2 linked regions of the Homo sapiens genome follow. Changing the gene in region 2 together with the main gene of any one other region gives a genetic interaction. Each region holds a gene or a part of one and is shown on either strand. Other genes may lie near its edges.

The links. A genetic interaction does not mean that the proteins touch.
Region 1: changes in KEAP1 (region 2) and TBKBP1 together harm fitness more than expected from each alone (negative genetic interaction), as found in Homo sapiens cells (one large-scale study listed by BioGRID).

Annotation. Positions count from the first base shown.
Region 1 is NC_000017.11:47,692,800-47,696,960, forward strand, and holds the start of TBKBP1 (TANK-binding kinase 1-binding protein 1), read left to right. Parts: upstream 1-1,361; 5' UTR 1,362-1,395; exon of another isoform or gene 1,396-1,864; intron 1,865-1,950; exon of another isoform or gene 1,951-3,279; 5' UTR 3,280-3,313; coding exon 3,314-3,538; intron 3,539-3,911; coding exon 3,912-4,034; intron 4,035-4,161.
Region 2 is NC_000019.10:10,493,357-10,496,856, reverse strand, and holds part of KEAP1 (kelch-like ECH-associated protein 1), read left to right. Parts: intron 1-3,500. UniProt on the Homo sapiens protein: Substrate-specific adapter of a BCR (BTB-CUL3-RBX1) E3 ubiquitin ligase complex that regulates the response to oxidative stress by targeting NFE2L2/NRF2 for ubiquitination.

The DNA.
Region 1 (4,161 bases), on a different chromosome or scaffold from region 2:
GCTCTGGCTGGCTCTCCTGGTAGAAGCTCACCTCTCAGTCCAATTTTCTCCCAGCAGTGAGGAAAGATGGCAGCTGCTGCTTTTCAAAGCTCAGAGAGAGCAAGAAACCTTTTCCTTCCATCCTCCCCCTCGGAGATTCCCACCCCCATCCCACCTCAGGAGCCAAAAAGGTAGGCTCAGGTTCCCAGCAGTCTTCGCAGCTAAGGCTGAATCTGCCAAAAGCCCCCGCCCAGCTTATCCCCTGCTTCCGGGCTTTGCCTCCCTGTCCACAGAGGATGCTCTTCAGCCAGAGTGCTCCAGGGTTCCCCTGATCATTCTCTACCTGCAGCTAGGCTGACCATGCCTCTGTCCACATTATTTAATCCACCAGGCAATACTCAAAATGACATCGTTAACACTTCCTGAGCATTCGCAGGCTGCTGTATTTAGTTCTGATCCCCATTCTTCCTCCATGAGAGTGCTTAGGTGGGGCATGATCTCCAGCTTAGAAAGGTTAAGGTAACTTGCCCAAGGTCACACAGCAGGAAAGTAGCAAAAAACTTGTTTCTCTTGCCCAGCAGTTTGGCAGGTGCTCAAATAATCTTTGTGCACAGGGTGACATCTGTTGTTTCTTCATTTCCCTGACCTGTGGGTACTTGAGGGTGGCCGGGGAGTGGTGTGTGGGGAGGGAGATGGCTGTCCTTCTTCATGAATGAATCTTTGACCTCCTTAGTTTACTCTCACTTCCAAAGAAGTTACAGCTTTAATCTCTCTGTACCCTATGTTCAATGTATTTATCGCAGCAATGCCCCTTTTACCAAGAGCAACGAAGAGCAGGTCTAATGATTTCCTTCTCAAAAGCGCAAAGACCAAAAAAAAAAAAAAAAAGCCAGATAAATAGCCCCACTTCCTCCCCAAATATACAGCCCATAACTAAACAACCAAAACAACCAAAGCATCAGCCGGGCCCCTGCACTGACCGCAGACGCCCCCAACACACGCCACCACGCCACACTGCGCCGGGAGGCGTCGGGGAGGGGGCGCCAGCGCGGGCCGCTGGCGCCGCAGGGAGCCGGTGGGCTCCGGGCGCGCTGCCAGGAAGGGCCGCACCGTAGGGGCCGCCGCCTCTCGCCACGTGGTGGTGGCAGCGGCGGGGTCCGGGGCGCCTTCCCAGCTGGAGAAACCCGGAGCAGCCGGGGAGGAGGAGGCGGAGGAGGCGGCGGCGGCGGAGGAGGAGCGGGGCGGACGGGAGGGAGGGGGTTGGGGGGAGGGGTGGGGGGTGGGGAGAGACCCGGCGGCGGCGACAGGGCGAGGAGCAGAGCGCGGTACCAGGGGGGTGGGGGCACTGGTGCCCGTTTGGGGAGGGAGCAGGCGGAGGGGGTAAGCTGCGATTACAAGCAGGAACCGGCAGCAGCTGTGAGTCCCCGGCTGGGGCTAGGGCTGGGGGAGGGGAGCGGCGCCCGGGCTGGGCCCCAGGGGTCGCGGGGTGGGCAGGAGGAGGCGGCAGGAGGGCGGCTGGCAGCCGCACGGGATGGCTGGGAGGGAAGGGGTCCGGTGTCGGCCGCCCTCATCCCCTCGCGTCCCCCTCCGCCGCCGTTCCTCAGGCCGCGCCACTCCCGGAGCCCCTTCCCCGGCCCCGAGAGGGTGTCCGGGGGCCCAGGGCTCGGCCGGTTGTGGGGGAGGGGGCTGCGTGGTCTCGGCCCCCGAGAGGGGAGGGGCGACAATTTCTGTCGGCCGAGCGAAAGGGGTTTAAAGGGCGGCTCTTAAAGGGGCCGCAGGAGGGGCCCGGGCCGACAGAGGCACTCACCCCTTCCCCAGCCGCCTTCCATTGCGCTCACCCGGGCGCTGGGCCCAGAGAGGAATGCGGAGGAAGGAGGCATTTGTGGTGCGGCCTCGGGGACAGAGCCCCGCCAGCGGGGTGGGCGCAGAGGGGCGGGCGGGGGTCTGGGGGGGTGTGGTAAGCGCTGGCGCGCGGAGCTGGGGGGAGGGGATGGCGTGGGAAGGAGAGGGTTAAAGGTGGGGCCGGCCCTACAAACGCGCGCACACACTCCTTACTCAGACCCAGTCACTCGCGTTTCCCTGGCACTTAGATGGGCCTGTGGGTGGCGGAGGGGGGGGGGTGGATTGAATTGGAGCCTGCGCCGGAGCCCTTTGCACCCCAAGCTCCTGCAGCCCGACCTGGGGGCCCCGCTGTCTGAACTCACAGCTCCCTGCCGAGCCCCCTCTCCGGGGTGCACATAACGCTCCAGCGCGCGCACACACCTCGGACAGTCCCCTCGCGTCTCACGTGACACGCGGCCCGGACGTGCCACCCTGCCCACGCGCTCACGCACGCGTGCACACACCAGCCTCCTGGTCGCTGCCCCACTCCGTCCCGACGCCCCTGCGACCCCGAAGGCACTCATTGACTGACACACCTACACTCATTCACAGACGCACACTCCCCCCATACGCCAACCCCAGACACACATTCATAACCAGGCCCGAGAGAAGTACACACGCACCCCCTCACTGCCTACTCCTGCTTTCGGGAGCCTGAGTCATTCCTGCCCCCTCGTAGGGTTCCCCATTTCCCGGTGCGCGGGCACCCTGAGACAGCCTTGGGAATTCGTTCGCGTCCCCTTCCACCTGGGTCCCCTTCCCCAGTTTGCGCCCCGTAACACTCAGCCAAGGACTTCCTGTGGGTCCCAGGTCAGGGGCCAAGGGGTCCTGGACCGCTGCCACAGCCCCGGTGCGCCCGGGGGAGGCGCTTCCTTTTCCTGAACTCTGGGATCCTGCGGGAGGAAGTGGGGAAGTTGGGCGGGGGTGCAGCCGAGGGCGTGCCGACTGTGGAGGGGCCGACCCTCGCGCAGCTCTGGGCCTTCCTTGGGGAGGAGCTGGGGTGCCAGAGGCCCAGGCTGAGGAGCTTGGCGGCGAGGTATTTGGGGAAGTAAGGCCTGGGGTGGAGAAGCGCGGAGGAATGGGCCGGGCCCGGCTGGGAAGGCAGCCCTCTCCCATCCACAGGTCTCCCTGGGTTCTGGCAGGAGCCTGCCCCTGCTGCCGGCCTGGCTTACTTGTCCCTACTTGTCAACACCCTGGCAGCGGGGTCTTCACCTGGTTCCAGCCCCTTTTCCCCAAGGCGGCAGAGAGGATGGGGCTGAGGAGTCTGGGAAGGGGCCATGGGAGTCCCTGCTGAGCTCGGGGCAGGAAGTTTCTGGGTTGCATCTTAGCCGGCCCCAGGGAGTGCAGAGCCAGGGAGAGGGGTACCAGGGACAAACCCTAGACAGACGGCCCTGTCCACGGTTGCTCCTGCTCTCCTAGGAGGCCCCGTGTGGGCCGCGGCCCGGCCCTCACCATGGAGTCCATGTTCGAGGACGACATCAGCATCCTGACGCAGGAGGCCCTGGGGCCTAGTGAGGTGTGGCTGGACAGTCCCGGAGACCCCTCGCTTGGGGGCGACATGTGCTCCGCCTCCCACTTTGCCCTCATCACTGCTTACGGAGACATCAAGGAACGGCTGGGGGGCCTGGAGAGGGAGAACGCCACCCTCCGACGCCGCCTCAAAGTCTACGAGATCAAGGTCAGAACTTGGAGAGGAGGGCGCCTGATAGAGTGTATGGGATGGGGAGGGGGACTGGGAATCTGGTAGATACCAGGGATCCAAAAGAGGGGTCACTGTGCAGACTCTTGGGAACTTGAGGGTCTCCCATGAGAGACGTGGCTGTTCCGGATGCGAACTGTCTCCTGTTGGCTTCAGAAGGGCTGGATCTGGGATCTAAAACAGATCCGGTGGGTGGGAGATGGCTACAGACCCATGGGAATTGGGATCCCACTAGCCAAGGAGAAGGAGGGTCAAAGGTCTGAGGCAGGTTGTGGGTTGGGGGCACAGCCAGGCTGAGGCCTGGGCTGGGCACCCGGGAATCCACTCTCCTGAAGCTCCACCCCACCTGCAGTACCCACTGATCAGTGACTTTGGAGAGGAGCATGGCTTTTCTCTGTATGAAATCAAGGATGGCTCCCTGCTGGAGGTGGAGAAGGTCAGCCTGCAGCAACGGCTCAACCAGTTCCAGCATGAGGTGAGCCTACCAGGCTGGGCGCACCCCCTGAGCATCTTGCTCCAGTCTGTTTCTGATACCCTTCCCTCCACACCCCCCAGCATCTGGCCTCTGCCCTTTGATTAGAGATGGCCAGGTCCTCCCTAAG
Region 2 (3,500 bases):
GCATGAGACACTGCGCCCACGCCCGCCCCCCACCGCCCAGTCCTTTTTTGTTTTTGAGACTGAGTCTGGCTCTATCGCCCAGGCTGAAGTGCAGTGGCAAGATTTCGGCTCACTGCAAGCCTCCATGTCCTGGGTTCAAGCGATTCTCATGCCTCAGCCTCCGAAGTAGCTGGGATTACAGGGGTGCACCACCACGCTGGCTAATTTTTGTATTTTTAGTAGAGACAGGGTTTCACCATGTTGGCCAGGCTGGTCTGGAACTCCTTACCTCACGTGATCCGCCCACCTCAGCCTCCCAAAGTGTTGGGATTACAGGCTTGAGCCACCACGCCAAGCCCCCTTTTTTTTTTTTTTGGGGGTGGGGGACAGAGTCTCACTCTGTCATCAGGCTGGAGTATAGTGGCATGATCTCGGCTCACTGCAACCTCCGCCTCTCGGGTTCAAGTGATTCTCATTCCTCAGCCTCCCAAGTAGCTGGGATTATAGGCATGTGTCACCATGCCCAGATAATTTTTGTATTTTTTGTAGAGATGGGGTTTCACCATGTTGGTCAGGCTGGTCTTGAACTCCTGACCTCAAGTGATCCGCCCGACTTGGCATCCCAAAGTGCTGGGATTACGTGTGTGAGCCACCGCACCTGGCCTTTTTTTTTTTTTTTTCTTTTTTTAGAGACAGGGTCTCACTCTGTCACCCAGGCTGGACTTCAGTGGCACGATCTCTGCTTATCACAAACTCCAGCTCCTGGGCTCAAGTGATCCTCCCACCTCAGTCTCCTGAGTAGCTGAGACTACAGGCGTGAGCTACCATGCTTGGCTAATTTTTATATCTTTTCTTGGTAGAGATGAGGTCTCGCTATGTTGCCCAGGCTGGTCTTAAACTCCTGGGCTCAAGCAATCTTCCCGCCTTGGTCTCCCAAAGTACCAGGATTACAGGCGTGAGCCACCACACCTGGCTACAAGAAATATTTATCCAGGGCTCTGTATACCCTAGAAGTAGCCTTACTTTGAGGTGGCCATTAATATAATCCCATTTTACAGAGGAGGAAAACCAAGACATGGAGCATTTCAGAGATTTGCCCAAGTTACACACCTACGAAGTGGTCGGATCAAAATTCCAACTCATGCTGGTTTCTTCGGAGCTTCCACTTTTTTTTTTTTTGGAGATGGAGTCTCACTCTGTTGCTCAGGCTGGAGTACAGTGGCACAATCTCAGCTCACTGCAATCTCTGCCTCCTGGATTCAAGCGATTTTCCTGCCTCAGCCTCCTCAGTAACTGGGATTACAGGTGCCCACCACCACAGCTGGCTAATTTTTTTGTTTTTAGTAGAGACGGGGTTTCACCGTGTTGGCCAGGCTGGTCTCGGACTTCTGACCTCAGGTGATCCGCCTGCTTTGGCCTCCCAAAGTGCTGGGATTACAGGTGGGAACCACTGTGCTGGCCCAGAGCTGTCACTTGTTTTTTTCCACAACATTCTATTGTGATTGCTTATTTTTTCCTTTTTTAGTCTATTTGCCATTTTAGAAAATGATTTCATTTTAAAAAACAAGATGGGTGAGTTGGCTCGTGCGTATAATCTCAGTGCTTTGGGAGGCTGAGGCAGGAGAATCACATGAGCCCAGGAATTTGAGGTTACAGTGGCACCTCTGCACTCCACCATAGGTGACAGAGCAAGACCCTGTCTCTTAAAAAATAAACTCAGACATCCCATCTCTACTAAAAATACAAAAATTAGCCGGGTGTGGTTGTGCGTGCCTGTAGTCCCAGCTACTCAGGAGGCTGAGGCTGAGGCAGAAGAATCATTTGAACCCGGAGACAGAGGTTGCAGTGAGCCGAGATCACGCCACTGTATCCAGCCTGACGACAGAGTGAGACTCTGTCTCAAAAAAAAAAAAGAAACAAAAGAGGCCGGGCGCGTTGGCTCACGCCTGTAATCCCAGCACTTTGGGAGGCTGAGGCAGGCGGATCACGAGGTCAGGAGATCGAGACCATCCTAGCTAACATGGTGAAACCCCGTCTCTACTAAAAATACAAAAAATTAGCTGGATATGGTGGTGGGCACCTGTAGTCCCAGCTACTCGGAGGCTGAGGCAGGAGAATCGCATGAACCTGGATGGCAGAGCTTGCAGTGAGGCAAGATCGTGCCACTGCACTCCAGCCTGGGCGACAGAGCGAGACTCCATCTCAAAAAAAAAAAAAAAAGAAACAAACAGAAAACTCAGAGGCCAGGCGCGGTGGCTCAGGCCTGTAATCCCAGCACTTTGGGAGGCCGAGGCAGGCAGATCACCTGAGGTCAGGAGTTCAAGACCAGCCTGGTTAACACGGTGAAATCCCGTCTCTACTAAAAATACAAAAACAAAAATTAGCCGGGTGTGGTGGTGGGCGCCTGTAGTCCCAGCTACTCGGGAGGCTGAGGCAGGAGAATGGCGTGAACCCGGGAGGTGGAGCTTGCAGTGAGCCGAGATTGCACCCCTGCACTCCAGCCTGGGCGACAGAGCGAGACTCCATCTCAAAAAAAAAAAAAAAAAAAAAGCCAAGCCAGGTATGGTGATGCACACCTGTAATCCTCAGGAGGCTGAAGTAGGAGAATCATTTGAGCTCAAGAGTTTAAGACCAACGGCCGGACACGGTGGCTCATGCCTGTAATCCCAGCACTTTGGAAGGCAAGGGGGTGGGCCACTTGAGGTCAGGAGTTCCAGACCAACCTGGCCAACATGGTGAAACCCCGTCTCTACCATAAAAATATGAAAATTAGCTGTGCGTGGTGGCACACACCTGTAGTCCCAGCGACTCAGGAGGCTGAGGTGGGAAGATCGTTTGAGCCCAGGAGTTCAAGGCTACAGTGAGCTATGATTGTGCCACTGCACTACAGCCTAGGTGACAGAGCAAAACTGTGTCTCAAAAGCAAAAACAGGCCAGGTCCGGTGGCTCACGCCTGTAATCCTAGCACTTAGGGAGGCTGAGATGGGCAGATCACCTAAGGTCAAGAGTTCAAGACTGGCCAGGCGAGGTGGCTCACGCTTGTAATCCCAGCACTTTGGGAGGCCGAGGCGGGCGGATCACGAGGTCAGGAGATCAAGATCATCCTGGCTAACACAGTCACCCCGTCTCTACTAAAAATACAAAAAATATTAGCCAGGCACGGTGGTGGGCCCCTGTAGTCCCAGCTACTCGGGAGGCTGAGGCAGGAGAATGGCGTGAACCCGGGAGGTGGAGCTTGCAGTGAGCCGAGATAGCGCCACTGCAGTCCGGCCTGGGCAAAAGAGCGAGACTCCATCTCAAAAAAAAAAAAAAAAAAAAAAGAGTTTGAGACCAGCCTGGCCAACATGAAGAAATGCCATCTCTACTAAAAATACATAGTGAAACTCCGTCTCTACTAAAAATAAATACAAAAAAATGGCCGGGCGCGGTGGCTCACGCCTGTAATCCCAGCACTTTGGGAGGCTAAGGCGGGTGGATCACAAGGTCAGGAGATCGAGACCATCCTGGCTAACACGGTGAAA